6 separate regions of the Homo sapiens genome follow, and all the other regions are linked to region 5. Evidence: fine-mapped expression QTL. A gene starts in region 5. Each other region holds a variant in brackets. All regions are shown on one strand. Distances are between the middles of the regions. Region 1 overlaps LOC105377885 (a long non-coding RNA gene). Region 2 overlaps LOC105377885 (a long non-coding RNA gene). Region 3 has its middle 290 kb from the start of CNR1. Region 4 overlaps LOC105377882 (a long non-coding RNA gene). Region 5 holds the start of CNR1 (cannabinoid receptor 1). Region 6 holds the start of LOC101928936 (a long non-coding RNA gene).

Region 1 (5,077 bases), 170 kb before region 5:
ATTTACAAGTATGAAAGATTATCAGAATAATACTCAAAAACAATAGTCTAAACATACATGTGTGGACATGTAAATATACACAACAAAAGCTTAAAAATTAGTAAGTACATTTTGAATTTTTATACTTTTAAAAGCTTGAACTCCATTTGGCTAGTAGTTGTGAAAATATTACATTATAAATAAGTCTCAGGGCAAGTAAACAAAAGGTGAAATATAGTATTGCCTTTGTATATATTTGCGTAGTGTTTTCTAAATGAGAAATGTGGAATTGAAAGGAAAAATATAAAGAAACAACACAATAATCTAAGCAACACTGCCAAGAGTTTTTTTCCATGTTACAAACATCCACCGTTCTTCATCCCCATGCCCGCCCCATTGTTTATGCTCTTCGAGTCCTTTGATCGGGACTTGTTGGCTGGTAGTTGTCCTTTTTGTTAGCTGGCTTCATGGTAGTTGTAAGTGGTCCTTTTTCATTGCTTTGTCTTGTATTTCACTTAACAGAGAAAATGGTGAGCCCTTCTCTAACACTCTGTCTTTACCACATGCTTCTATTAAAAAAAATACTTTTTTAAAGCCTGGGAATTTTCCAATATTAATAACTATTAATTAGTTTTAAATGTCTCACATCTCAAAGAAGTCCTGAATTTTACCTACATAAAAATTCATTGCATAGCTTGAGTAATTACTTACTGCTTTAAACCAGAGCAAAAAAACTATGAGTTTATGGTTTCTTTGCATACACGTTAGTATCTCTGCCTTTGTACCCTCTGACACACACATGCACACACACACACATGGATTTTCCAAACCAAAAAAAGTGAAATTAATTATGCTGTCCTCTGGTGCTACACATGAAATTTCTTTATCCTTGTCTATTTTGATGAATTTGTTGCTAAAAATGCCTTTGTATTATTCTTTTGCTTGTGTTTCACTTTTATAAGTAGGTATTATTTACACAGCTTTAAAAATATTGCTATTAATGTTATTATTTACATTGCTTATATAACATTGTTGAGTATAAATCTAAAATTATCATGTTGACTTTCTTAAACTGCTTGTTAAGGTGTTATATTAATTCTTATCACAAAAATACTCCTGTATCATATAGAAATATATTTTTTAAATGCTCTGATAATGAAGGCATGATAGCAGGAATATAATACCCTTAACCTGGCAATTCATCACCCAAAAAACAATTTTCCCAGATGATATATTGCCAAGATTCATGCTGCTGGATGTGCATAAAGAAGAGAACACGTATTGTTCTGCAACCACAATCTAGTATTACTAAACAATAAAAAGACAGATGTACCAACAGCATTTGGATTGACTATAATTATTTAAATTATTTAAAATATCCTTAAATAACTTCTCCCTAAACTTATTTTCGTTTGAGTTTTTGAGACTGCAATCCTTCCTCAAACTCTTTATGTATTGCTTCTCATCAAATATTAATTTGAGTTCATCCCAATTTTCAGCTTTTCAATGCATTGCATTTCAATTATCCCACAGAAAGCCCTCTCAGTATGACTCAAAGTTGTAAACCAGCATTCTTTAAAACCCATGTAAATCTACCTTTCACTCAAAAATACTATGGAATGGCAGAATTTCAGAACAATCACAGCTGTGCTAAAAACGATGGGGTTTAGCAGCCACCCACTGCCATGGCCACATGTATAGGCAGAATGCTTGTCAGATCTCCCTGAGTAATGGCTTGGTTTTCATACTTAGGATTAGGTAATGTTCTTCAATGAAATAAATTTATGTTTGATATTTTTTCATCCCCTCCAAACATAAAAGCTATAAATAGCCACAACCCTTTGAAAATGGAATGGCCTCCTATGACCCTCAGGCTGAAATTTAAGAGTTTTCTGCCACTGATTTATTCTCATTCCTGTGGAAACAAGTCACCAGGAATGAGTCTGCTGTCATTATTTGTGATTATTTTCAAGCACTTACACTGGTCCCGATGATCTGCTGTTGTGTCCATGGAAGTCTGAAAGGAAATGAGCATTAGTCTTGTAGAATGAACTCAAATAACTGTCAACTGCTAGGTTGAAAGTTATGTATTTCCCAAGAAATCTGTTTTTTAAAAATAGTATATATTTTAATGTTTCTAATTATAAAAAGAATATATCACATAAAAACTCCGGAAAGATGCATAAGAAACTACAAATAGCTATTACCTAGGGAGAACTAGAAATGAGGCATTCAGGGGTATAGAATGAAAACATTGTCATTTCTTTTTAAATGTTTGTTATGGAAATGTTTTAACATAGAAAAAATAGAGTAGTCCAGTGAATCCCCTATGCCCGTGATCCATCTTCAACACTTATTAACTCACGGCCAATCTTGTCTTATCTATACTCCTAACACCTACTGGATTGTTTTTTATTTATTTATTTATTTATTATTTTTTAATTTTATTATTATTATACTTTAAGTTTTAGGGTACATGTTCACAATGTGCAGGTTAGTTACATATGTATACATGTGCCATGCTGGTGCGCTGCACCCATTAACTCGTCATTTAGCATTAGGTATATCTCCTAATGCTATCCCTCCCCCCTACCCCCACCCCACAGCAGTCCCCAGAGTGTGATGATCCCCTTCCTGTGTCCATGGGTTCTCATTGTTCAATTCCTGTCTATGAGTGAGAACATGCGGTGTTTGGTTTTTTGTCCTTGCAATAGTTTACTGAGAATGATGATTTCCAATTTCATCCATGTCCCTACTAAGGACATGAACTCATCATTTTTTATGGCTGCATA[G/A]TATTCCATGGTGTATATGTGCCACATTTTCTTAATCCAGTCTATCATTGTTGGACATTTGGGTTGGTTCCAAGTCTTTGCTATTGTGAATAGTGCCGCAATAAACATACAGGTGCATGTGTCTTTATAGCAGCATGATTTATAGTCCTTTGGGTATATACCCAGTAATGGGAGGGCTGGGTCAAATGGTATTTCTAGTTCTAGATCCCTGAGGAATCACCACACTGACTTCCACAATGGTTGAAGTAGTTTACAGTCTCACCAACAGTGTAAAAGTGTTCCTATTTCTCCACATCCTCTCCAGCACCTGCTGTTTCCTGACTTTTTAATGATTGCCATTCTAACTGGTGTGAGATGGTATCTCATTGTGGTTTTGATTTGCATTTCTCTGATGGCCAGTGATGGTGAGCATTTTTTCATGTGTCTTTTTGCTGCATAAATGTCTTCTTTTGAGAAGTGTCTGTTCATGTCCTTTGCCCATTTTTTGATGGGGTTATTTGTTTTTTTCTTGCAAATTTGTTTGAGTTCATTGTAGATTCTGGATATTTGCCCTTTGTCAGATGAGTAGGTCGCGAAAATTTTCTCCCATTTTGTAGGTTGCCTGTTCACTCTGATGGTAGTTTCTTTTGCTGTGCAGAAGCTCTTTAGTTTAATTAGATCCCATTTGTCAATTTTGGCTTTTGTTGCCATTGCTTTTGGTGTTTTAGACATGAAGTCCTTGCCCATGCCTATGTCCTGAATGATAATGCCTAGGTTTTCTTCTAGGGTTTTTATGGTTTTAGGTCTAACGTTTAAGTCTTTAATCCATCTTGAATTAATTTTTGTATAAGGTGTAAGGAAGGGATCCAGTTTCAGCTTTCTACATATGGCTAGTCAGTTTTCCCAGCACCATTTATTAAATAGGGAATCCTTTCCCCATTGGTTGTTTTTCTCAGGTTTGTCAAAGATCAGATAGTTGTAGATATGCGGCGTTATTTCTGAGGGCTCTGTCCTGTTCCATTGATCTATATCTCTGTTTTGGTACCAGTACCATGCTGTTTTGGTTACTGTAGCCTTGTAATATATTTTGAAGTCAGGTAGCGTGATGCCTCCAGCTTTGTTCTTTTGGCTGAGGATTGACTTGGCGATGCGAGCTCTTTTTTGGTTCCATATGAACTTTAAAGTAGTTTTTTCCAATTCTGTGAAGAAAGTCATTGGTAGCTTGATGGGGATGGCATTGAATGTATAAATTACCTTGGGCAGTATGGCCATTTTCACCATATTGATTCTTCCTATCCATGAGCATAGAATGTTCTTCCATTTGTTTGTATCCTCTTTTATTTCATTGAGCAGTGGTTTGTAGTTCTCCTAGAAGAGGTCCTTCATGTCCCTTGTAAGTTGAATTCCTAGGTATTTTATTCTCTTTGAAGCAGTTGTGAATGGAAGTTCACTCATGATTTGGCTCTCTGTTTGTCTGTTATTGGTGTATAAGAATTCTTGTGATTTTTGTACATTGATTTTGTATCCTGAGACTTTGCTGAAGTTGCTTATCAGCTTAAGGAGATTTTGGGCTGAGACAATGGGGTTTTCTAGATATACAATCATGTCATCTGCAAACAGGGACAATTTGACTTCCTCTTTTCCTAATTGAATACCCTTTATTTCCTTCTCCTGCCTAATTGCCCTGGCCAGAACTTCCAACATTATGTTGAATAGGAGTGGTGAGAGAGGGCATCCCTGTCTTGTGCCAGTTTTCAAAGGGAATGCTTCCAGTTTTTGCCCATTCAGTATGATATTGGCTGTGGGTTTGTCATAGATAGCTCTTATTATTTTGAGATACGTCCCATCAATACTTAATTTATTGAGAGTTTTTAGCATGAAGGGTTGTTGAATTTTGTCAAAGGCCTTTTCTGCATCTATTGAGATAATCATGTAGTTTTTGTCTTTGGTTCTGTTTATATGCTGGATTACATTTATTGATTTGTGTATATTGAACCAGGCTTGTATCCCAGGGATGAAGCCCACTTGATCATGGTGGATAAGCATTTTGATGTGCTGCTGGATTCGTTTTGCCAGTATTTTATTGAGGATTTTTGCATCAATGTTCATCAAGGATATTGGTCTAAAATTCTCTTTTTTGGTTGTGTCTCTGCCCGGCTTTGGTATCAGGATGATGCTGGCCTCATAAAATGAGTTAGGGAGGATTCCCTCTTTTTCTATTGATTGGAATAGTTTCAGAAGGAATGGTACCAGTTCCTCCTTGTACCTCTGGTAGAATTCGGCTGTGAATCCATCTGGTCCTGGACTCTTTTTGGTTGGTAAGCTAT
Region 2 (5,077 bases), 200 kb before region 5:
AGTACTGGGAATTAGGGCTCCTAAGAATGTAAATACTGGCTAGAAAATTATGAATTTCTCCCTGTTTTACAGAAAGGGTACATTTTGTTACCCTTGCCCCTTCAGTACATGAATGTACCTGCTAACTCCATCCTTGGCAGTATTAGGATGGACAACAGATAAAAGCTAGAGGATTATCATTTTTATTTATATTATTTATTAGCAGCCACATTAAACCCTTTTCAGTTTTACTAACCATTTATACTTTGAGTTGTTCATAAAGTCCCAGGATAAAAAATCTTCCTAAATACATTTGCAGACAGAACACACAATTAGGGGAATACTTGACTACTGTAGTCAAAATTCAGATCTTCAGAGAGAAAACAACCCAGCAAATTTTACCAATTTTACATTGACCAGGACCATTTCTGCCTTGTTGTGCTATACAGACACCATTGTCAGTCCCAATTATCCAGCTGCCTAATCAACACCCATAATTAAATTCTCCACACTCACTCCCTTGTATTCAGCACTTCCAGTGACTGTGTACCCACTCCAGAAGAAAGAAAGAACCAGTACAGCTAGACTGTTGCTTATCCCCATCTCAAATCTGTGAACTCTTTAATAAAATGCCCATTCTAAAAGTCTGGTAGTTGGCTTGATGCTTTCAGTGGCATGTGAGGTGGTCAAAAAGCTCAGCCACAAAGTTCATGTAGGTTCTATGACCATGAAGGGTGTGTCTCTTCCTGTTTCTGGGCCACGGTGCTTTTTGACTGACAGGTGAACTGTTGCCCTTACTTGTAGCTTTAAATAAATTGAAGGGGCAGGAGAAGATGGGAAGAATTGTAGGATTAGCCCATGTTTTCCAGAAATTTTTCAGTTACTATCACCAACAAAAATGTATTAAGTACCCACCACTTTAAAAGAAATTCTGGGCAATAGAATAATTTTAAATGATTCTCTTTGCTATGGAGACACTTTTCAAGGAGGAAAAAAGGTAGCAGTTCAAAGTTAGTGGGTAGCATATTAAAGAGAACTGAGCTATTTAAATTAACATCTCGAAGTCCTTCTAAATTCTATGGAGGCAAACCAGAGGACGGTAAATTAAATATTTAATTAATTCATGTGAGAGCTAATAAATCATCTCTAAGCCAAATAAATGATGCATGACTATGGTGTAAGCAAATTGGTTTTACCCATTTTAGGTGCTACGTGTCTATGGCAGCTCCTTTTTGGTCAAGAATACACCCCTCCCCACACACATACACACTCACACACACATACACACGTAAAACTGCTACCAAACTCTAGAAATCATGTTTCTATGGCAACTATAGCCCATTTTATTGCAGTCATCTTTATACAAAATCAGTTTTAGAAATCCACTGTGATGAAAAGGGGCTTCTGTTCATGCTTGTCCAAATGAAGCTTCCTATACTACATGTGATGACATGTCCTAGCCACTGGCTAGGGCTATATCATGTATCAAGAATCATACAGATCTTAGGATTTGATGATTCCTGCATCTGATATGAACGAAAGTCCTCAGGCACAAGAGTTCACAAAGATGACTCCCTTAAATTACTCTATGCCCAACTGTACCATCTACAGGCTGGGAAATGCTCCAAGAGTGGTCAAAAATGCCCCCATGCATTTGAATACATGGGAAGCTTCAGGTCACTCTCGGGGGATCTTGCTGCTTCTATGTACTTGAGTGCTTTTCCTGCCTCCCTGTGAAATCTCTCTGTAAGAGATTTCATTTCCTCCCCAAACCACTGGAGGATCTTGGGGATATGAGAAGTCTGTTGGCAATGTAATTCGGTGTGTTCTTGCATTCAGTGGAATGACTGTGGGGTTTGGGTCAGTGACCCCTCACCCTGCTATTGATTGGATTTGTGACCAGGGATAGTTACTTAACCTCCTTGGGTCTCAGTTTCTTCATCTGCTAAATGAGGGTTTGGACTAGGTGACCTATAAAATCTGATTTGGCTCAAAAAATCTGTGACGTTATGTTTAACAAAATCAAATAACTTGAGCAAGCGAGACTTCACATCTCTGGACGTGATCAGAAAGGAGAGTAGAGAACAAGACAGTCTCCATTCCTACAAAACTAAAGTGAACTTCCAAAAATGCAAATACACATTTATATAATTTGTTGTTTTGTTATTAAGAAGAAATGGAACCTCTAGTCAAATGATACAAAGCTGAGACTATTTTATATTGAGGAGCTTGTGACTGGATGGATGTTTATTCCAGTTCTGCCTCTATGACCTCATTTCTTAGGGAAGACTATA[C/T]ATGGTGAATTTGCAATAGGAAAAGAGCAGGGCAGGAAAAGCTAGATGTGGCCAGAATTTCAACCGGAGAGTTTCAGTAAGCACATCAGAGCTCTCTCTTACCCAATCAGGGAAGCAATAGGAAAATAGGAAGAAAAGTTTACTGTTTAGGTAGTGCTTGGTTCTCCCTAATGGCTCTCAACATGGTTTTAGATGTTTTGAAAGTCCCCTCTTCTACTCCTCAGTTGCCACGAGGCTTCCTGGCATATAACAGTTATGGATCTTTTCTTCACGATTGCAGCCATTACTGTGGCTGTTAATCAGTCTATCTCCCCTTGGTGTCTTTGCTACATGGTGCTGGCACTGCAGAGTTAAAATGTCTCAGCTGCTGCTCCAGTATTTGATTTATGGTGACAGAGGCCACATTTTCCCATCCCAAAGTTAGAAGAACATGGTGTGACAAGTATGTGTGTACTCATGAGGAGAACAGGACAGAATGTTAAAAACTGAGGCTGTCCTGCAATACTTCTGCTATACCAGATAAAATTGGCAGCTTGCCTTTGTTGTTTTGGTGAAAGAGGAGACCAGTGAGTTTTCCAGTTAGATGATACGATTCCTTCATATGCACCCAGGTTCTTCAGACCACTGTGCCTTGAGTCTCTCTTTGCCTTCCAGATGTATACAAAAGTAGAAGTTTTGGAATCAGGTCTGGAGTCAAAATATACTGGAGCCAAAGGCTTGTAGTTCCCTTAAGCACCAAGAGAAAGATGATACTGGCTCATGATCATCACTTCCTCTCATGTTCTGGAATGTCTGCCACCCAGGCTTTTCTTACCTGACTGGTCTCTGGACAGTCTCTAGAATGGAAGTTCCACGAGGGCAAGAAAGGTTGTATATATTATTTTCTGCTGCATTCACAGCATCTAGAACTGTGCCTGGTACATAGCAGGTGCTCAGTACATATTTGTGGAATAAAATGATATTACCTGATCAAAGACTGAACTATACCAAATTCTTTTCACAAATGTGCGATAATATTAGAAATAAGGACACTTTGATCAGAGAAATCTGTGATAGGAAGAAAAAAGATGACTCCTATATTCTCATTAGGTTTCAATTTTGGTTGAATCCCCCTTTATATGTTTGGCAGTATTTAACTATATTTCCTCCTGAATGACAGAATTCTCAGATGCTTCTTGTTTATTTCTTTGATCTAAACAGCAGTACATAGAAAGGGCAAGAGTCCTTGAGGTATAATGTCAAATGTAGCTGGCATGTAAACCCATTTCAATCCAATCTATAGTCATTGTTGCTTTGTTTGGGGCATTTTATAAGATATGTCTGTACAATTTTATAAAAAAATAAATAAAATTGCCACTTCTTCCTTTAAGTTACTTTTGTCCTATTTTATTTTCCACTAAAAAACCCAATTCAGCTTCAAGTAATAATAACAGGGTTCCATTTATTTCAAATCACCAAAACCTCAGTGTTATTTCAGTAATGTTATTCCCAGAAAAATCTTGCTACTCTGGAGTGGCAATTTTATGTTTTTCTAAATGATAAAACAAGTACAACTGCAATAAAATTTATGTATTTGAAGTTTCTAATAATTTAGACAAGGACTTGGGCTAAAGTTTAGTTTTATGATGTCTTGGAAAAAAGGATTTGTTAAACTAATTATTATAGCAAAAAATTTAACTTAAGTAGAACAGTTACTAAGCAACCTAAAAGCACATTAATATTAACAAATATGCAAGTAACACACTCTTATCTATATATTAAACTAGGTTCCCCAAGGAAGTACACTAGACAGTATCATTTATCTGCTTTAAATGACTGTGAGAGCGCTTCCCGCATGTGTGTGATGCTTTGTTGTACAATGTACTAAACCACTGCATGTGATATGTTTTATTGTCACAGCAACCCTGTGAGATAGGCATCATGCCTATTTTATAGAGAGGGAAGCAGTGGCTCAAAGAGGACAATGGACTAGTCCAAGAACACATGACATAGCCAAGCTGGGACTTCATTGAACATAGGTCTTCAGATGCATAATCCAAAGTTCACTCCACTGCAACACAGATGCCGGTAATGGTTTGAATATGCTCTGTAATTTAGACTTTTCATTAATCTTGACATGCCTATTAGTTTGAATTAATGTGTTTTCCCCAAATCAGTGAATAGAGTCAAGAAAAGGGTTGGATAAAGATAAGAAGTATAAAAGCAATAATTTTCATGATTATTAAACAGTGATGATAAGAAACAATTCTCCTACTCAGAGGGGTTTTAGAATATTCTTATCTATATCTTCACAAGTGAACCCTACATTTGGGAAGGACCTCATAGATCAGCAGTCACTTCCAACTCAGGAGAGAAGCCCAGACCATGTGAGTATCTTGCCTTGAGACAAGGAGTAGGAGAATGGTAAGGATGACTGTGGCCTGGCTTTATTTGTTCTTGCTCTCTACAAATGAAGGAGTGCAAAGAATAGGAATTGGTACAGCTTCAGATTCCTCCACAAAGCCTCTAAAAACACTAGAGCAATGCTTTCAAAGTCAGAAAGATAATTATTTTCAACTTAGAATTTCAATACTCAGCCAAACTATCAGTCAAGGGAAAGGGTAGAATAAAGAGATTTTCAGACATACAAAAATTTTATTCTCATATTTTCTCAGGAGGCTCCTGGAGGGCGTACCAAACCAAAAGCAGAAAGCATATCAAGAAAGAGGAAGGGTGCATGAAGAAAACAAAGCATACAAACACAGGTCAGAAAAAAAGATTCCCAGATTTTGGTGAAGGAGGATCCTAGGAAGAAAAGACAACTA
Region 3 (5,077 bases), 290 kb before region 5:
GATTTATATCCCTCACCCCATCCCATCTTCCCTTTCTGAGTCTCCAAAGTCCATTATGTCTGCATGCCTTTATGTACCTATAGCTTAGCCTCCACTTATTAGTGAGAACTTGCAGAATTTGGTTTTCCATTCCTGAGTTATTTCACTTAGAATAATGGCCTTCAGGTCTATCCAAGTTTTTTATGGCTGAGTACTATTCTATGGTGTGTGTGTGTGTATATATACATATATAGCTCACATTTTCATTATCCACTCATTGGTTGATGGGCATTTAGGTTGGTTCCATATCTTTGCAATTGTGAATTGTGCTGTGATAAACATGCACGTGCTGATATAAAGACTTCTTTCCCTTTGGGTAGATATCCAGTAGTGGTGTTGCTGGATCGAATGGTAGATCTATTTTTAGTTCTTTAAGAAATCTCCATACTGTTTTCTATAGAGGTTCTACTAATTTACATTCCCACCAGCAATGTATAAGCATTCCTTTTTCACCACATCTACACTAACATCTATTGTTTTTAGGCTTTATTAATAATTATGGCCATTATTGCAGGGGTAAGGTGGCATCTCATTGTGGTTTTGACTTGGATTTCCCTGATTAGTGATGTTGAGCATTTTTTCATAGGTTAGTTTTGGCCATTTGTATATCTTCTTTTGAGAAATATCTATTCATGTAACTTGTTCACTTTTTGATGGAATTATTTGTTTTAGAAAACAATGTTTTTACTTAAGAAAACTAGTTGAGAGATAGGGTTAACATATAATGCATTACATGTTATACATTTTCTTATATAGAATAACAGAAAACAGACTCCTAGTTAGTGTTTTTAGGCAAAATATCTGATGTTTTAGGAGTAGATTATTGACATTAAGCAGGGGATGGCTTTATATTGTTAATCACAATTAATATAAATGGACTAATCTCTGCAGGTAAAATATAAAGATGAACAGGCTGGATTAAAAAAAACAAATAATAATAAAAATAAATTAATAAAACCTCCATCCAAACCCCCCAAACCCAGCCATATACTACTTTAAATAGACCACATACATTACAAGGATATCTAAATATCTAAAATCGAATAATAGAAAAAAGATATATCAGACAAAAAATCAAATGAAATCTGAGGCAGCTATATTAATATTAGATAAAATGGCTACAGGGCAATAATAAAGACAGCCACAATAGAACATTAAAAATTTTTAATTCATCTTAAAGATATAGCAAATCTAAACTGTATGCACAAAATAACATATTGTCAAAATATATAAATCAGAAGTTGACAGAACTATAAAGAAAATGGATAAATTTACTACTATAGTACCCTCTAAAATACTAATAGATCAGGCAGACAAATTAGTAAGCTAAAGAAGATTTTAACTGAACAATTAAGCTTGATCTAATGGACCTTTAAAGAACAATACATTTAATGGTTTGAAAATACACATTCTACATACTAATGTGTCGCACACATGATTTATAAAAACTGAATTATTGCTAGGACAAGAGCAAGCCCAACCAAATAGAAAAGGCTAAAACCATAGGGGGAAGATTGGTAAATCTTGGCTATATGAATAGTAAGAATGGCTGTTTATTGAAAAAGCAGCCCCCAAACTAGGGGAAATCTGTAAGATGTATAACTCAAAGGATTATATAAAGAACACCTAGAAATCAAAATGAAAAAAAAAAATAAAAGAAGCCAAAACAAAGATGGGAAAAGCTACTATCTGATGAACCATTCCAACTGTCCCATAAACCATGAAAAAATGCTCAAACTCGTAATTAGGAAATGTAAATTAAAACCATAATGAAGTGTAATTTCATACCAGCTAGATGGTGAAAATCTCAGTGTTGGTCAATACTAATGGTAAGATGTAAGTCTAACAGGATCCCAAATCCATTGCTGGTGTTAAACAATATGCTATCTGAGGATACATACATAGCTGAAAACACTATAAAGAAGGGCAAGGGAATGAGCTATATAAAATTCAGGATGGTGGTTACCCCTGAGGGGGACGTGAAGGGAGGAGGATGATTATCATTCATTAAACTATGCATGTATGTTTGGTACATGTTTTTGTAGGAATACTGTATTTCACAACTTAAAAAAAAGTTAGTGATGGTAAAGACTGCTATCGGCCTGCACAAAAGACATTTTGGTACTTGGTAGGCATTGCCTTACGGTTTACAGAAAGGCACTTTGCTGTCAGTTTGTCTTTTATCTTCTTTGTGCTTTTTCTAATGGTTTTCAGTACTGGGCCTGAGCTCTAGTCAATTATACCAAACACACACATTAAATTTCAAGACA[C/T]TGTGTTGCCTGCTTGTCACAAACCCAAAGTACCTTGTTTACTGCAAACCTTTTTAAGACAGAGGGACCATCAAGCAAAGACTGTTTAAGCTAACATTCCTGATGTGGAATAGTATGGTCTAATATTATTTAAATCTCTCAAACATTTAGTCAGATTGTGGTGTTTGGAGCTTTTTAGTTTTATCTGGCATGATTCTCCCCATAAAATCATGCTGCTAATGTATTCTAGTGTGTATATAAACTTTCTAAATTATTGTGAAGTATTTGTTTTAGATTCCTTTTAAGACGATTTTAATCTTTTTATAAGCCTTAAGGAAAATGAAGATCAAACTATTTCCCCTTTTCTTGTTGTGATGACCAAAAATATTAGATCCATATCTAGCCAAGCCTCAGTTTTTGTAAAGATCCTGTAGTAATTTATTAAGTCAACAACCAGAAGCTTCCTTTACTTGGCTGTAATGAATCACCTCAAATATCTATCTATGCCTACAGACTCCTAGGACCATCTGTCTTCTATTTGAGTTAAATTTATACTGTCTGACTTTATGCTGTATAGAAGTGATGCTGAAAGCAGCCACGGTTGGCTGCAGGCTTATTCTTGAATCTTTATCCAGGACCTCTGGATGAAGGCATTTCTTCCTTTTCCTTAATCAAATATCTTTAACTCTGTTTTGGATTTCCTTTTTTTCCCTTTGAAAGGATTTTTCTTCTATAATAATTCCCTCCTGTTTCATAGCTCTCTCAATCTCTTCTTCTCCCCCCTCTAAAATGTTTACATCTCACTTTTCTTCAAAAACAAACAACAAAACTTCTGGTGACACCAATGAGCTATTCAACACCAGTTTATTGCATCCCTTTTTTATTTCCCTAGCAACTGTTGGAATTATTGTGAACTTCATACCCCTCCCTCTTGGTCACTGGTGCCACAGCCAACTGACCACTGCTCAGAGCTCATCTCTTATTTCTCTTCCTTTGTGAACTGTGCTTTAACCATGCTGGTCTCCTGGCTAAGCGTGCCCCATGTTTCAGGCATTTGCATTTGCTCTTTCCTCTACCCCAATGCTTTTCCCCTATTGAGTCACATGACTTCCTTTAGGTCTCTGCTCACATATCCCCTTGGTCACCCTATTTTTGAAAACCAAAATAGCAAAACAGTGTCCCCCATCAGCCTTCTTGGATTGTTTATTTTTCTTTACTGGTCGGCATGTATTTACTGGTTGTCTGCAAACACAATGAAAAAGAGAGACTTTGCCCCATTTGTTCCCTGTTGGAACAGTGCATGGCACATAGTTGGAGCTCAGTAAATTCCTGTGTATTGGAGCAGTTAATGGATGTTGAAACTGTCCCATCTAAGGTCTGTAATGATTCTTCTGTTTCCTTGATGTCTGATTTATCACTCTGTTTCATTTGGTTGTCCTTGTAGCACGTCCTTTCTCTCAGCTATGGTGGTTATCATACTCTTTATTCAACCTCTCATGTTCTTCCTCTGTCTTTTCCAAGAGTTCCTTTCAAATTATGGCCTCTTCCAAGTCTCAGTTCTGGACCCTAGAAATTTCTTTTTCAGTGCTCACATCTTTGGAAATGTATCCTATTTTTAAAACTGTGGTGAAAAAACATATAATACTGACCATCTTAATAATTTTATTTTTTTATTATTATTTTTATTTGTGGTAAAATATAACAAAATGTATTATCATAACCATTTTTCAGTGTATAATTCATTGGCATTAAGTACATTTACAGCATTGTGCAACTATAACTACAATCTCTCTCCAGAACTTTTTCATCATCCAGACAGAAACTCTGTGTCCATTAAGCAATAACTCCGGATTCTCCATCCTGCCAGGCCTTGCCAACTTCTGTGGCTGTTTCTCTTCCTCCTTGCCTTCTGACTTAAACAGCCACTGTCTGCAAAAGGACACATCTGTATGAACCTACTTACATGAGGAACCTAGAATAGATAAATTCATAGAGACAGAAAGTAGAACATCTTAATAATTTTAAAGCATATGGTTCAGCGGCGTTAACTCTATGCACAGAGTAGAATCATGCAGTATTTGTGTTTTTGTGACTGATTTATTTCAGTTTGCATAATATCTTCAAGGTTCATCCATGTTGCCACATATGACAGGATTTCCTCCTTTTTAAAGTCTGAACAATATTCCATTGTGTGTATATGTACTATGTTTTCTTCATCCATTCATCTGTTGATGGACATTAGGTGGCATCCACCTGTTCGATGTTGTGAATAATATAAATATCTCTTTAAGATCCTGGTTTTACCATAAAAACCCTAGAAGAAAACCTAGGCATTATCATTCAGGACATAGGCATGGGCAAGGACTTCATGTCTAAAACACCAAAAGCAATGGCAACAAAAGCCAAAATTGACAAATGGGATCTAATTAAACTAAAGAGCTTCTGCACAGCAGAAGAAACTACCATCAGAGTGAACAGGCAACCTACAAAATGAGAGAAAATTTTCGCAACCTACTCATCTGACAAAGGGCTAATATCCAGAATCTACAATGAACTCAAACAAATTTACAAGAAAAAAACAAACAACCCCATCAAAAAGTGGGCGAAGGACATGAACAGACACTTCTCAAAAGAAGACATTTATGCAGCCAAAAAACACATGAAAAAATGCTCATCATCACTGGCCATCAGAGAAATGCGAATCAAAACCACAATGAGATACCATCTCACACCAGTTAGAATGGCAATCATTAAAAAGTCAGGAAACAACAGGTGCTGGAGAGGATGTG
Region 4 (5,077 bases), 220 kb after region 5:
GAGGCTTTCAGCAAGTTCACTTTCTTCTGAATGTTCAGAGCCAGGGAAGACATCCTTGCGTATGGCAGGACATGGTTAAGTCACGATGATTTGAAGAAGTGTCACACTCTGTATTCTCGTAAACTACCATCTCACTTCTGTCTCATGTCTAAGTATCATGTTCTCATTGTAGCTTTACAACAAGCTCCTGTCAAGTAGGTCACTGGGAAAGGAAAGACATGAGACATAAAGAGGGGCTACAGGATGTGTATTATTTACTGTATTGCAGTGGTCCCCAACTGGGGGCAATTTGCTCCCCAGGGGACATTTACTAATGTCTGGAGTCATTTTTGATTTTCACAACTTGCGGAGAGAGTGCTATTGGCATCCAGTCAGTAGAGGCCAGGTATGCCGCTAAACACCCTACAATGCCAAAGACAGACCCCCCCAAAACCAAGAATTATCCAGCCCAAAATGTATACAGTGCTAAGACTAAGAAACCCTGCTGTAGTGCTGTTCTGTATTTTTTTCACCCCAAGTTCTGCTTTCTTGATAATGAACTAATATGTTGCTGGTTGCATGATCTGTTGAACACAAGGTAGCCGTGTCAAACCCTCTCAATTAACAGACAATCCTAATTAATTTGTTATCTTTTTCCCCCTCATTCATTCTTTATTCATCTTGGGTGGAAGCCCAAGTAGCAGCATATGGATGTCTTACAGCCACCAGCTCACATAAAGAAGGGTAAGCATGTTGCTGTAGTCACGCCGTCTGGGCTGCAATCCAATCAAGTTTCAGTATTTTGCATGGCATTCTCACTGCCTCACTTTGCCAGGCATCGTGGAGTTGAAAAACAAGTCCCAACAGAATTTGCTCAAATATATCTCATCGTGTGAAAGGAATCACAGAGAACTGGATGATGTAATATTGACTGCCTGTTAGTAAAGAGAATAAGCATGTCCGCCAAAGAATTAAGCCCAAGAGCCAGAGATGCAGAGGAAATGATGAGAGGGTTGAAATGGTAAATGAAGATGTCAAGTCATATGATGTGTGGACCCAGGCGCTGCGGCAGCACCTGGAACCTTTATAAGCACCTCTTCCAGAATGGTACAGATTTTCTCTCACAAAATGTACGACTATATATCACACTCTTCTGTTTGATCATCTTTATTTTCGTATGTCTACATGCTACCATCAAGCAACATCGTTTGAGCCAGAACAAAGGCTGCTGCCTTCCTTCAGTTAACAGCAGGTTTTATTTCTCTGCCCTGAATCCTATGTAGTCAAATAAATACTTTTGTCACAGAATGTGTGTTGATGAAGAAAGGGATCTATACCAATGCTCAGTAGATTCTGTGCTGTTTGATTCAGTGTATTTTATACACAGATATTTTTAAACTGCTTTACCTCTGAGAAGTACTATTTAGAGGCGATTTTCAAGTGTACAAGTCTCTTTCCTCTTCAGCACATTTTTGCTGCATGGTTTGTTTCCATCCAATCCCTTGATGTTTTCAGGCAAAAGAGAAGGGCAGGGAGGGAATGAAGCTGAGCTGCTGCATCTCAGAGTTTATTTACAGCTGAGTAAGTAACTGAGCTCTAAGAGCCAGACGCCAATGCAGGAGTGAGCGTTGGAAGATCAGCCTACTTTGTTCTGACATCTTCCCTGCACCGACCCTGCTCACCGCCAAATTGTCATCATTAAAACACCTAGTATTTATGGAGTGACTTAGAGCTTAACACTTTCCCATACTGATTCTCGCTGTAACTCAATGAGAAAGCAGGTATTATTCTCAGAGCTGGTTGGAAGCCTGTGGATGTAGTTTACCACGACCCATTACACCTATTGAATTCGCTGCATGTTAACACTGTCAAGCTTTTTCATAGAGGCGGAACATCATATTTTCTTAAATATTGCCTCTCTTTTCACCCTGGAGTTCCAGCATTCTCCTGTGGTAACTGTATTCCAAATATGCCATGCTTAAAAACTCCAGGGTATATGAGGAAAACAGAAGAAAAAAACCTTTTCTGCAAAATTTGAGCCGGAGGACCTGGAATTTAAACTCAACTCCTAGATCTCTCTTCTTTTACCTCTTATACGCTGCTTTATCTTCACCCTCTGGCCCTGGCCTGATGGTGGAGCCTCTGGCACGTCTTGACAGGCCTTCTCAGTGCTGAGAGCCATCAGCATGAGGTCAGTGCTGGTGGCATGCCGAGCTCTCTGTCTAGCCGTGACTTGCACTGAGGCAGTCACATTTTTAGTCCTTTTTTTTCCCCAAGATCATAT[C/T]TCCAGCTCAACTGCAGCATGATAAATACCCAGTGTAAACATTTTAGTCACCCCAGAGAGTCACCTCCCTCCTTCTGTCATCATTAGTTAATCACCAGATATCAATCAGCCACTTTCGTTTATAGTAAAGCAGATTTCAAGGCATGTTGAGAGCTTGAGAGAGAGAGAAACTCAGCTCATATCCTAAAGGAAAGAGGCTTCAATCATAAATTGGATGAAGGACTGGGCACAGTGGTTCACGCCTATAATCCTAGCACTTTGGGAGGCCAAGGTGGGAGGATTGCTTAAGGCCAGGGGTTCAAGGTTACAGTGAGCTACAATCATGCCACTGCATCCCAGCCTGGGTGACAGAATGAGACCTGTCTCTGAAAACAACAACAAATTGGATGAAGGGAAACATCGAAGTATGCGCTGAATGTGTCCTGTACTCCAGGACCTGGGTTGGGTATTTTATGTGTTCAGGGTTATTCAGTTCAGGGCAGCCATGTAAAAGCTTACGTTATCCTTAATTTCAAGAGAAGGTGATAGATTTGTCCAATATCACCCAGCAATAAATGGCCTGCTCAGGACCAAGCCAAGTTTTTTTGTTTCTATCCCTTCACGCTGCTTCTCAAAATTAGTGCACTCTAGATGGGACCCAAACCCCCAAATCCCAGGAAAATACGGCAAAAACAGCACCTTTGAGCCCTGGGTTAAGTTTTTACACACACATATCTTGACAGGATGACTGTCCATTCCTACTTCTGAAGACAAGAAATCTCAACTTCTTGTGTCACGCCAAAGGACAACATGTTAATTCTGGGCTACCCAATGGGCAAGTAGTAAACTTCCTTGCCTAGAGCGAAAAGCACTGGTCTGAAAGTTAAGAGATGTCCCAGGTTTGCCCTAATTATATCCCAGCAATTCACTTCATCTTTGTGATGTTGGTTTCCTCATTGACCAAACTGAAATGAACTCAGTAAATAGTTTTTTAGTGTCTCCTGTGTGCCAGGCAGTGTTCTAGATGCTGGGAACCTAGCAGTGAACTAGACAAAGTCCCTTCCTTCATTGACCTTTCATTCTACGGGGGAACAGAGGCCATAGACCAATATATAAAGGCAATGATTCCGGAGAATGGTAAGGCCTTTGAAGACAATAAACAAGGTAAAATAATAGAGAAGCATGTGTTGGGGAAGGGGTAGATGAGGGTAGTGTTTCTTTAAAGTGGCCAGAGAAGGTTTCTTTGAGTAGGAGGAATTTCAGTTGATAGCTGTATGGTGGGGAGACAGTCATTTAAAGACCCAGGGGAAGAGTGTTCCACAGAGGGAACAACCAATGCAAAGGTCCTGGGGTAGGAACTACGTGATGTGTTCAAGAAACAGAAAGGTCAGTGTGGATAGAACCTAGGAAGCAGAGAGGGCACACTGCAGTGTGGTATAAGATGGTAGGGGACCTTGTGCGCCACCGTTAGGAATAATACTTGCCTTCCTGGCCTGACAGCATTATGGTAAGGCTCATATTTGATACAACTTTAGATGGGAAAGTCCTTAAGGCAGTTACAGCCTAACCAAAGATTACGTGCTGCAGAAATAGGTGGTGTACATTTGGTATGTGTTTCCTAAGTGTGTTATATGTATTATATGTTGCCAAATTCTTTACTAGTGCTGCTCATGTGCAATCTTTATTAAATCATTCTTAGCAATCTTTATTAAATCACTCTTAGCCCTCAGATTGCTTTGAGGAGTGGGATTGCTCCATCTGGATGAAGCCAGGGATGTTCGGCCCCTTCTCTTCCGTCTAATACTGTTTTCTGAATATGGAGGGCAGAGCACGAACTGTAGGCTCAGGGAAGGGAAGTTACTCTCAGTCTCTAAATCCATTGTAAGCAAGTAGCAGGGCAAAAGCTGCACTGCTTGCTTTAGGCAAGAAACAAACACATACTCCTGTTTTATCTTATTTATGGATTTTTTTAACAAGATACATGTAGCTGGTAATTTGTAGAAATAAAAACCTCCTGAGAGGAGATTACTTCTCATATCCTGTCTTCTTATGAAGTTAAAATGCATATGGAGACAAGAAAACAGGCAGGTTGCCCTGTGTACCCACGAAGGAACACAAAACAGAACCCGGGCTGCTGGGAATAGCAACAGAGCTCTGGGAGCAGGGAGATTCATTAAAAATGTAAAATGAATGCAATGATTGCATGTGGTTGTCTTTGGGGGCATTTTGTTTTAGACCTCATATGTGTTGGAAAACACTACTACAAATGCCATAATTATTTTAAGATATAAAATTATTTAAATTGGCCAATGAATGCAGCCCCTGACACCAGTCTGCATAAATCTGGATGTATTTGTGTGTTCCTGCAGAGTGGATGGGGTTTAGAAGCAGCTTTATTCATTAGCAGCATTCTCTTCACTTTCTTCTCCTCCTTAGCCCATTCGAAGACACAATGTCCTAAACTGCATGACCATCTAGAGGCAAAATACACCTTCACATACATTAGCTCAATTAATTATCATAACTGATATATGTTGCCATTTTCTGTATTTTACCCACAAGAAAGCTAAACTCAGAGAGGTTAAGTGTCTTGCCTAAAATCACACAGCCAGAAATGGCATATTTACTTGAACCCAGGTTTTCTGTCATCAAATCCTCCCTTCACTATTTTATGGCAATGGAAGAGTACCAGTTAGCAGATTGATCTAAAGTGATGAGTCATGTTAGGAGGGAGAAATTTTTTTTTCATTTGGGTGTCCAGTAGTTTCCAGGAATAAAAGAGAATCTGTGTGGAAGAGCAGTTCTGTATATCGAAGCCTTTGCTTATTCATCAAT
Region 5 (5,077 bases):
TGAGTTGAGATACAAGATTTCCATGGAATACCTTTCACAGGTTGATGCTGACCACCACGAAGGTATAGATCAACATGTGGGAAAGTGCTCCTTATAGAAGGAGCACCACCAGGGTGTGTCAGTGTTGTTTAGCTGAGTGATGTTGAACAGCTCTGCCACTCCAACAGCTCACGCCCTCCAGCTACAGGGGAGGGTGGTAGCACCCAAGTGAAATCCTGTGGCCTGAAAGCATTCTAGGAGTCCAGCTCCCCCAGGTTTCTTGTGACTGAAGATGTCCTTATCACAGTCAGAGGAAGCGCTGCCTTGATCCTTTCTTTTAATTACTAGCAGTCATTTGAAACTGAGCTGCCAGGTGGAGGAGAGACTTTGAAGTTATTGTCATCTGGCCTCTTGGGAAATCAGAGTCTGCGAGGTCATAAGGAGAGAAAATTTTTGCAAATATTTCCTACTGCCAGGGGTGTGAGGTGAAGGGAAAATCTAACAACCACGACCCCTAAAAGAAAAAAGCAACAGATGTTGAAGCCTCCTCCCTTTGAATCTTGCGCTGGAGCTGTCTCTGCCATGGAGGTGGGCTAAAAATGCCTGTGAGTAGAGCCTTCCCCAAGCAGCAGGGTTAAGGCTCAGCACTAATCCCACATCTACTATCTATCTCCCAGTCATTCTTCCATCTATCGATGGGTCCATCAGAACTTTATTGATAACCTTTTCTAACCACCCACCTAGTAGGACTTAATCATTTCAGCGGTGGACTCTCTCTCTCAATGGAGTCAAATGGTCATTTGCTTGACGGAAATACTTCTAGTCTAAAGCAGTCTAGGGGGATTTTCAAAAACTGCACTAGTGCTCTGCGGGAAGCCTTTGTACGATTTGGCCTGACGTTTCCAAAACGGTTTTACAGCCTTCCCTCCTCCAGGACCTTGAACTCAACAATCTTCCTTCTTTCCCTGAGAGGCTCGCTTTCACAGATTCTCACCACGTAGTTCAAATATAGGGTCCAGATATAGTACGGTTGCTGTTGGGGTCTGATCAGGGGCGGGAAGACCTGGAGGTCGGTAAAACGGAGCGGTGCGGGATGATGTCTGGGAACACCGGCAAGGTGTCATAAAATGAACGCCAAGGCGGCCACAAGAGGACGGCCGGGAACCGAACCCAGCGCCCAGCACGGGGCCCTTGTGGCCGACGTGACGTGGCTCCGTCAGGTGGAAACCGTGCGATCCTCTCCCGATCCAACTCACGAGAGATAAAGATGTCTAAATAACCACGACCGCCGCCGCACACCCTGCAGGGCCCCGGGGGCGGAGGGGAGGGGAGCGCCTCCTCGGCAGAAGCGGCGGCCCAGGCTTGTTTGGAGGTTCGCAATTCACCATGATAAATGTAAAGACCAATTAAGGTTTGATCCGTGCACACAGGAGGCAGACGGCGGCTGATAGTGGAAACAATTAACGAGCATGTCCCCTAATTCCTGCCGCGGCTGCTGAGCACACCGCGGCTCCCCAGGCGCCCGCCGCTGCCGCCCCCGAGTCCCAGAGCCCCCAGTCCGGCCCTGGAGTGGGGCGTCCTCCTCCAGCGAAAAGGTGCGAGGAGCGGGGCCCCGGGTGGCCGGGGAGGGGGCGCGCCGGGCCGGGAGGCGCGGAGCCAGCCGCCTACGGAGCCCAACTGTTTGCATCGGGGACCGGCGGGCGGGGCGCGCCCGAGTGGTCTCGCCGGGAAAGGGCGGCGGGCGCTGGAGAAGGCGCCTGGCGCGAAGCTGGGCGGCGCCCCGAGGGCGGAGGACAGGTGGCCGCGCGACCGCAGCCAGGTAGCGAACGGCTCGGGGGCTGCGCAGCGCGGTCCCAAAGCTCAGCCCGGCCCCGGGCCCAGCTCGCTGCCGCCTGCCACGGGAGCGGCCTTGCGCGGAGGGAGGGGGCGCGAGACCGCACCCCCGGGCCCGGCGCGCCTCGGCCTCTGGGCTCCCGCTCCCCTTCCCCTTCCGGCTCAGCCCGCTGCCCCAGACGTGACCCCCGCGGAAGGTGTTGGCGATGCGCGCTGCCCGGGAGCGTGTGATTAATGGCCCCGAGGTCGTGGGCGGCGCATGCACCAGCCCCTTCTTGGCCTGGTCAGGGTGTGAGGGTATCCGGGAGCACAGCGAGGTCATGGCAGCGGGGGCCTCCGGGAGCGCGGCGGCGGAGGAGGAGGAGGAAGAGGAGAAGTAGGTGACGCGGGCCGAAGAGGCTTGTCCCCTCTGGCCCCAGGGCTGGCGCCGCGGCGGGTCCCCCGCCCCAAGCAAAGTTTGGGGCTACGGGCGCTGCGCTCAGGTCCCTCCCCGCGCAGTTCCCTCGGCGGGGTCTGTGCCGCCGCCGCTGCCAGGGCAGGACAAAGGCTCATTAACACGTGATGGGACCGCGCTTCATAAATGGGACTGGAGCGAGAGGGAGCCAGAGACAGCGCGAGCGGAGGGAGCGGCAGGGACTGCGCGAGCGGGACGAGGCGACGGGCGCCCGGGCTGGCGGAGACGGGCGGCCCCACGCCGGGCCAGGCGGGGCTCGCGGGAGGACCCAGTGAAGAGCCTGGGAAGGGGCGAGGCTCGCCGGCGGTCGGAGCAGCGGGGCGCCAGTCCCGGTCGCTGTCGCGGGCGGGCGCTGGAGACCGGGACGCCGGCGCTCGGACGGACTGACTTGCTGACCGCCCGCCGGAGGCACACCCCACTCCACCCCACCCCGCCTCGCCAGCAGCCCGGCGCCGGCGCCGCCTCCCGCACGCTACTCCCTCTGCCACCCCTTCCTTCTCCACTTCTTTTCCGCCTCCGCCTCTTCTTGTCTCCCGCGGCGCCAGCGCCTTCCCTTGGCCCGGGCGGGGGCCTCGGCTCCCTGCAGAGCTCTCCGTAGTCAGTGGGGGATATTTCGTTCTAGCGGACAACCAGCCCCTGAGCTGGGCGAGAGGTGCCAAGGGAGCTTCTGTCCCGAGGACCAGGGGATGCGAAGGGTAAGACCTGGCAGAGTTGCGTTTGGAAATACTTTTTCCGCCTCCCGCCCCCTCGGGTACGACCAGTGTGGTCCCCAAGTGTCCTTCGTGGAGTTCTTATTCCGTGTGAGCGAATCGTGCGTCGGTGTTTACTTAGCTGTATGGCCCCAGCCTGTTAACTGTGATCTGTTCTACTTCTGGAGATTTCTACCATTTACTATTTATTGAATGTGTGTGCACCTGGCTCTGTATGCACTGATGTCTGTTTGTAGAAAATGGGTAATTGTGCATGTTTGAAAAACGGGCGCTTGAGTTGGTGCTGAATGCCTATAAACCATGTTAGCAGCTAAGTCTTCCCAGGGAAATACATCGATCTCTGCTGCAAGCCTAGAAACTGACTAATGTAAAATAGTAAATGTCATATAAAGAGATGTATGTCAAATAATAAACTTTTGATAAAAAGCTACAGGAACCACTTCTCTTTGAGGAAAAACAAATGTCCATGTAACTAATACCTAAAATTGAATGTTGATGGAACCGTTTAACTCAGAACTAGCTGTTAGATGACTAAAGTTAATGTTGCATTTTTAAAAGACATTTCTTGTTAAGGCTTACAAATCATAAACGGATCACCTCTCAAATAAAAATATGTTTGCTGTAATAGACATGAGAAACTGTCATTTGGTCATTTGGAAGTTTAAAAGCAACATGCATGTTTCTGATTTTAATAGATTGTCTCTCAGATATTTAAAATTGAACAGATAAAAAAACAAAAGAAATGTTTAGTAACGTATTAATCATTTTGCCTCCCATCTTTTTTTATTTTCCTCCAAATAAGTGCTATTCTTGCCTTTGTTGTTGATTTCCTGATATAGTAAGCCTCCTCGGGCATGTAATCCAATAAGAGATTAGAACAGATTTACTGGTTTTAAAGGTGTTGAAAGATATCTCTGTGGGTCCCATAACTTCTCCTCATTTTTATTACCAAGTTAATATCTTTTGAACAATGGGGGAAATGCAATTTCTTAGAGGAAGCTTAGCGGACACTGAGTATTAGTGGGGTCACCACTGACATCAATCTATTTTGCAGAATATTGAGAAGCTCAGAGCAACCAACCTTTAAGGTTCCCATAGGACTTTATGTGATTTAAAGTGTTGCTTTTCTAATCCTACCCTACTGACAGTTTGCAAGGGAAGATACACTAATTGATTTTTCTCTGTCCTTTTTTTCCCTGGTACTCCTCCCCCTCCCCCGCTCTCTAACTCAGTTAAGAGCAATTTTATAAAAATAAAAGGCCATTTATAGTTTCTTAAGTGAGACAAATTACTTTCAGATTATATCCATACATGAGCAGAAGACATGCACCTCCAGAATTTTAAACATTGCATACTACAGGCACTTATTTGTAGGCACAATGGCAGTTACCATAGTGGGGCAAGAGACTTGATGTGGGACATGGTTTTAAAAAACTAATCCATTTTAGCTTATCAGGAGAACTTACTGTAAACCGACTCTTTTTGTTTCAAAGATGTCTCCCACTCCAGGCGAGGAGCGCTCTTGGCTGAGGTATGTATCAAGTGTCTGATGGGGAGAGGTCTCATTGTGTTTCTCAGTGTCCATGGGGGTACAATGATGCCACAAGGTGGAAATACCCAATTCTGGCCTTTCACAAATAAAATTACTGTGCTTGCATACTCGTTGTTAGGAAAGCAAATTAGATATTCATGCCCCTGAATTTTAATAACATTAATATATGTATGTAAAAAGAATGTTATGACTAGAACCTTAAATAAGCCATAAGTGATTATTATTTAGTGTGTAAAGTTTTAAATTCTGATGAACACCAGGTCTCACATTGAAGTAGTGCTTGGCTTTGTTTGTTATCCACTGTTTTCTGTCTTTTTCTGTTACCCATTTCCCAGTGGACCATGTTCCTCTCTGTCTTGCCTGTGAGATTGCTCTTCTCTAATAAGCCTAGCTGCAGGATCAGTGTGTTCTTTTTGGCATTTCAAAATGGTAAAATAGTGAAATTGTTAAATGTTACCAAGATGAAACTGCTGGGAATGAAATTCTCAAAAAGAACCACTGTATTTGTGGCATATTTCAGCCTCTTCCAAAAGAAAACTCTTTGATTCG
Region 6 (5,077 bases), 370 kb before region 5:
GCTTAGACATGGATCAGGCTCGCAGAACGGAATAAATAAGGCGGTGACTGACTTCAAGACATTGAGAACAAAAGCCCATGGCACACAACAGGAGCTAGTGAGTTGCTTCCAAAACCATTTGGACAGTTCCCTTTTGCCTCCAGAGTTATTTTTCCTTTTGCTCTCCTCTTTATTTATTTTCTTCCCCCATTCTCCCTTTTCTGTCCTTTCCGCCCTCCCAAGCTGTCAACAACAGCTCCCCTAGACTCTGCCTAGCACAGAATTTTGCTGACTTCTGAGAAATTCAAGAGGCAAACCTGCAGGGCAAAGAAAGTGAGTATAAATGTATACTGAATTTCATAGACAGGGAAAGGGAAACCCACCCTCACCTCCTGCAACTGGAAGTTAACACTTCCAGCCAAAGAGAAATGTGAAAATGAAGCCTTCACAGTATTGCAGACAAAGGAGAATGGATATCGTGCTTTTAATTGGTAAATGTGACACTGTCTCCCATGAGGATTGGAGTGGGATGGTGGTGACGGAGAGAGGGAAATGGCTCAGAGTAAAAAAGAAAAAATCAGACAGGGCGATTTTATGTGAAAAATGTAACTGTAGATGACATGATCACTTTCTTGGTACAGGAGGGATTAAACCACTTAGAAAGCATCTGTAAGGAGAGGTGGGATGGGAATACCAGGTCAAATGCTGCCCGAGGCACGTTTGAGGTCAGAAACATACTGGTCTGGGTCAGCCCCCAGTTTGCACATGGCAGCTTCCTCTAACTACGAACATAGCAGCTGTCTGATAATCACTGGCTATTGATTGACTAATTAATTAAACATATTCATGGTGTCATTTTAGGAAACTTGGGAAAAGAAAGGAGTGTTGCAGGGAGATCTGAAGCAAAGAAGAGCAGTTGGGAAGAAGCACATAGAATCTGTCTCCCTGCGCTCTGGGAAACGATTGCTCTCCTTTTGTAGCTGTAGCCACCACCATGCATCCCCTTCAAAGGGGTTTCCTCTGCTGTTGAGCAAAGTGGCCTGCCCCCCATTTCCCCAGGTTCTGCTGGCTAAGTTCACTTCTAGCCCCTCCATGCCCCTCTACCTCTGCCTCAGCATGTCCATGACAAGGACAGAAGCAAGCTGTGGTCTCAGGCCCCAACTGCCTCCCTCCTCTCCCACATTCAGAGGCAGTACCTACCATGGACAGCGGCTTTTGTCAGCGGCTGCCCACACTGGAAACTGAAGCATGACACCTCAAGCCTAAAAACCTTTCCTCATTAACACTTCCTCCTAAAGCACACTGCTGGCATCATCATAGGCATGCAAGCCATTTGCAGCCCAGGTGAATGAGGAGTTTTGGCTCCTCTTTATGTGAAACTATCTTTGTCATAAGGCTGGCTTGACAACAGTGAGATTTCCCAGTGAGGCTGTTCCCAGTTCCATTATGCCACTTGTCTTTGTAGCAAAAATGTGTTGTGCGCTTATTACATGCTTATGGGGCTAAGTGCTGAGACTAAAAAAGGTGAACCAGATCGCTTCCTGGCCTTTAGAAGTTCAGAGTCCAGACACCAATTCAAATTATTGCAATACCAATTCATGGCACCAGGTCTAATGTCGGCTCTGTTTAACAGGCTCCAGCCCTTCCAGGGCCTAAGATGAGAAAGGAGGACAAGCACTCCAGGCTGATGGGTGCCCTTTCTCCTTCCTCGAGACAGTTGATCTTATTTTTAGTTAATTTTGTCACTCTTAACCTTATTTTGCCATCTTGAAATTTTACCATCAGCTCCTCCCTTGCCTTTGCTCCCTCACATACAATCACCAAATTTGTTGGTTCCACCTCAGACATGTTTTTGGACTCTCTCCCATATCCTCCAACCCCTGGCCCCTCTTCCTTCCTGGCCTTGAAAGCTGACAGTGGTCAAGTGCCCAACTGGTCTCCTTGCCCCCAGGCTCTCCCTCCTCAGTCCTTCTGCCATCCTGCCTACATGGTTATTTTCCTAAAATACAAATCAGATTGCATCACTCCTCACTTAGAGACAATCACCGACTCTCAGCTTTCAGCGTGACTGGGCTTTGCACCATCTGCAGACACTTGGTGGAGGAGGGGGTATTAATGGCATTGCCTGGCCTAGGGAGAAATGTGAATGGAAGGGAAGGGGACTCAACCTCAGAACAGGATGGGCAACGGCAGGGCTCCCATCATGATTGCACATTGAGACCACCTGGGAGAGCTTTGATGCCCACAGATGCCAGAGCTGTTTCACCTCCCCACCACCCCCAGCCATTGGATTTGAGTCTGAAGGTGAGATCTGAGCACCTGTAGATTTATAAAGCTCCCTGGGATGAGTCCTGTCACAAGCCACTGTGCTGGGGACCTCAGCAGGCTCTGCATTTTGGGATGGATTATGTGCTTTGAAAAGGCACCCTCACATCAGCTCCACCTCATGGAAAGGGAGGTACCCTTGTCTCTCCATGGTCTTTTGGCTCATGGTCCCAAACCAAACAGTGACTGGTGGCCCATGAGTCCATCCCAGCCCTGATTTTGGCTCTGCAGCTCCCCAAGCTCTATCCATCTGATCTAATTTACCAAAAGCCAGGCTGTTTCACAGATAATATAATGCTTAACCAATTCCTCAGTCTCAGCGTACTCTGTTCTCTATAGGGAGTTAATCTACAACATTTTAGTTGTTTCCTTAAAATAGCATAGTGGTATATTTTATGAGCACGACTTGAACCAAACACAATCTTTGTTTGCTTCAGGCTTGATTTGGAATACTTCTTGATGTTCTGGGTTTTGCAATACTTCAGCAGTATTAGAAAATATTTAGATTTGCTTCTAGTTAACTAGGTGCTCTTTTAGGGAGGTGGGGATAAATCTCGTTGATCTCGTAGTTCATTAAAAAGAGTATTGTCTTTTCCACTCAGGGTTCAGCAAATGTGTGTGTGTTTGGAGTGGGGGTGGTTTTATTTGATTATTGGCATTTTAATTTACTTCTTATTAGGAAACACACGTTTCCTTTGATGGTAACCACAACAGTGCTGCTACACTAAACTACTCCATGGCTACAAAAAATGACAAAGTGT[C/T]GGAAGCCTCCTATTTTCTTTGAGGATGGTAGATAAGCCAAAGACTTTTAAATTTTGTTTTGTTACATAAGTCTCTGCTACTGGCCTCAGGCTAGTCCAAACAGCCTCATTATTCAAGTCAGGGCCAGCCAGGCTTTAGGCGAGGCTGCCTGGGTGGAAACGTTCTGCTCCTTCGTCTCCGTCCTCCGCACTTCATTGTGCACCGCCCCCTGCACGATCCAAGCCTAAAAATACCCCAGTTGTCCACAGAGCCTCGTCTCTGCTGGCCTTGCCTCTTAATGCAAGAGGCAAGTTCTGTCTTCATTGCCTTGCCCCTTCCCCCACCTCTTTCACCCATTTTTCCCACCTAATAATTATAAAGAAAACCATTAGCCATGAAACCTTCCCCTCCCCCCTTGCTCTTTTATCTACTTAAATATCCTTGACTGCGAGACATCGAGTACAGCACATTTATTAATTTTTAATCTGTCTCTTCTTGTGGTTACTGTGTTCCAGGGACTGAAGGACCTCGAACAATGGTCTCTGAAACCTTGGGCTGAACCTCTTTTGTTGTAGGCAGGGAGGTAGCTGAGGGCATAATGGAGTCTGATCAAATAAATATCTGTTATCTGAAATAGCCTGTTCAAGGTGAATATGGATTTTCATCACATTAAACTCAAGCTGGTGAGACAGGGTTTTGGGCCTGAATATTATTAGCAAACAGAAAAATAAATTTTGAGAGATGATAAACTGAAAGAATTATTCCTCGTGGGAGAGCTGTTCTGGAGGCAGCCCAGAGGACTCTGAGGGCAGACAGCTGCAGAACCACAGGGCCCCCTCATTGCTGGATCAGAGGAAGGAAGTCCAGGGAGGGCCTTATGGAGAAGCTCTTATGTGCTATTGGTGTTCCTGGGGGGCCTGCCACAACCCACTTCTCCTTTTGCAGTGCACACTCTCCTTGGAGGATCTGATCCACTCTACCCCTAACTGTCTGTGCCTCCCACAACTGGTTCTCCAACCTGCTTTCTCTTCTGAGCTGCAGAACCACATATGCAGTGGCTCCTGGGAATCCCCAGGAGGGAATCCCCAGGTAGTTCCAGAACAGAATTCACTCTCCAGACATCCCAGTCCTGCTTCAAGCATGCCCTTCTCCTGAGCATTCCTCTAATAATGGATGGTACCATTGCCTATCCATATTCATAGGCTGGGGACCTCGAAGCCTTCCTTGGTTTATTTTCTCCACTATTTTGCCCAACAATTTGGCTGTGAAGACTCCTAATTGTGTCTCAGACGCATCTCTCGAGTCCATCTGAACCCTCTGTTGTAGTTCATTCATTTTCCTTCCCTTGCCTGGAAGGGCAAATGCCTTCCAGCCGAGCTTTTCAACCTGTACACATGTTGCACTCTGGCCTGTCTGTACGCTACCATAAAGTTCCACAGCACATGTCCCATCAGGCCACGGATGAAAAACCTCCCAGGCTCTTAGAAGTCTACAGAATAAGGTCTAAACTCGTCTTCACAGCTTCTCAGACTCTTCACAGTCTGGTTCCAACCTGCTTTCTTAGCCTTATCTTCCAGCCTCAACCAGCTGCGCACTCTGTTGTCTACTTGCTGAGCTCACACAGCTCCCTAGATTCAAGTTTCTCCTACCTGTCACTTGAATTCGTACAATGGCTGATATGGTTTGGTTCTGTGTCCCCACCCAAATCTCATGTCAAATTGTAATCCCCACATGACAGGGGAGAGACCTGGTGGGAGGTAATTGAATCATGGGGGTGGATTTCCCCCAGCTGTTCTCGTGATAGTGAGTGAGTTCTCACAAGATCTGATGGTTTAAAAGTGTGGCACTTCCCCCTTCATTCTCTCTTTCCTGCTGCCATGTAAGACATGTCTTGCTTTCCCTTTGCCTTCTGCCATGATTTTAAGTTTCCTGAGGCCTCCCCAGCCACGCTGAACTGTGAGTCAATTAAACCTCTTTTCTTCATATGTTACATAGTCTCACGTAGTTCTTTATAGCAGTATGAAAATGGACT

What was found.
Region 1: its variant is fine-mapped to the expression of CNR1 in fibroblasts (GTEx, PIP 0.99).
Region 2: its variant is fine-mapped to the expression of CNR1 in tibial artery (GTEx, PIP above 0.99).
Region 3: its variant is fine-mapped to the expression of CNR1 in whole blood (TOPMed, PIP above 0.99).
Region 4: its variant is fine-mapped to the expression of CNR1 in nasal epithelium (TOPMed, PIP above 0.99).
Region 6: its variant is fine-mapped to the expression of CNR1 in whole blood (INTERVAL, PIP above 0.99).

The regions. Positions count from the first base shown.
Region 1 is chr6:88,336,688-88,341,764 of GRCh38, reverse strand. The region is part of intron 2 of LOC105377885 (a long non-coding RNA gene); the gene reads left to right. Among named protein-coding and RNA genes, the nearest start is that of CNR1, 170 kb to the right of the region's middle. The variant G/A (reference allele first, on the strand shown) is at 2,772.
Region 2 is chr6:88,363,088-88,368,164 of GRCh38, reverse strand. The region is part of intron 2 of LOC105377885 (a long non-coding RNA gene); the gene reads left to right. Among named protein-coding and RNA genes, the nearest start is that of CNR1, 200 kb to the right of the region's middle. The variant C/T (reference allele first, on the strand shown) is at 2,274.
Region 3 is chr6:88,449,040-88,454,116 of GRCh38, reverse strand. No RefSeq gene overlaps it. Among named protein-coding and RNA genes, the nearest start is that of CNR1, 290 kb to the right of the region's middle. The variant C/T (reference allele first, on the strand shown) is at 2,310.
Region 4 is chr6:87,941,906-87,946,982 of GRCh38, reverse strand. LOC105377882 (a long non-coding RNA gene) reads right to left here. Exons shown (of 3, transcript XR_001744246.1): 3 at 2,940-5,077. Among named protein-coding and RNA genes, the nearest start is that of SPACA1, 100 kb to the left of the region's middle. The variant C/T (reference allele first, on the strand shown) is at 2,264.
Region 5 is chr6:88,163,687-88,168,763 of GRCh38, reverse strand. CNR1 (cannabinoid receptor 1) reads left to right here and starts at 2,417. Exons shown (of 2, transcript NM_016083.6): 1 at 2,417-2,961. RefSeq lists silencers at 1,291-1,490, 1,561-2,000, 2,061-2,740.
Region 6 is chr6:88,534,415-88,539,491 of GRCh38, reverse strand. It overlaps LOC101928936 (a long non-coding RNA gene), which reads left to right and starts at 123. Exons shown (of 3, transcript NR_110867.1): 1 at 123-312. The variant C/T (reference allele first, on the strand shown) is at 3,066.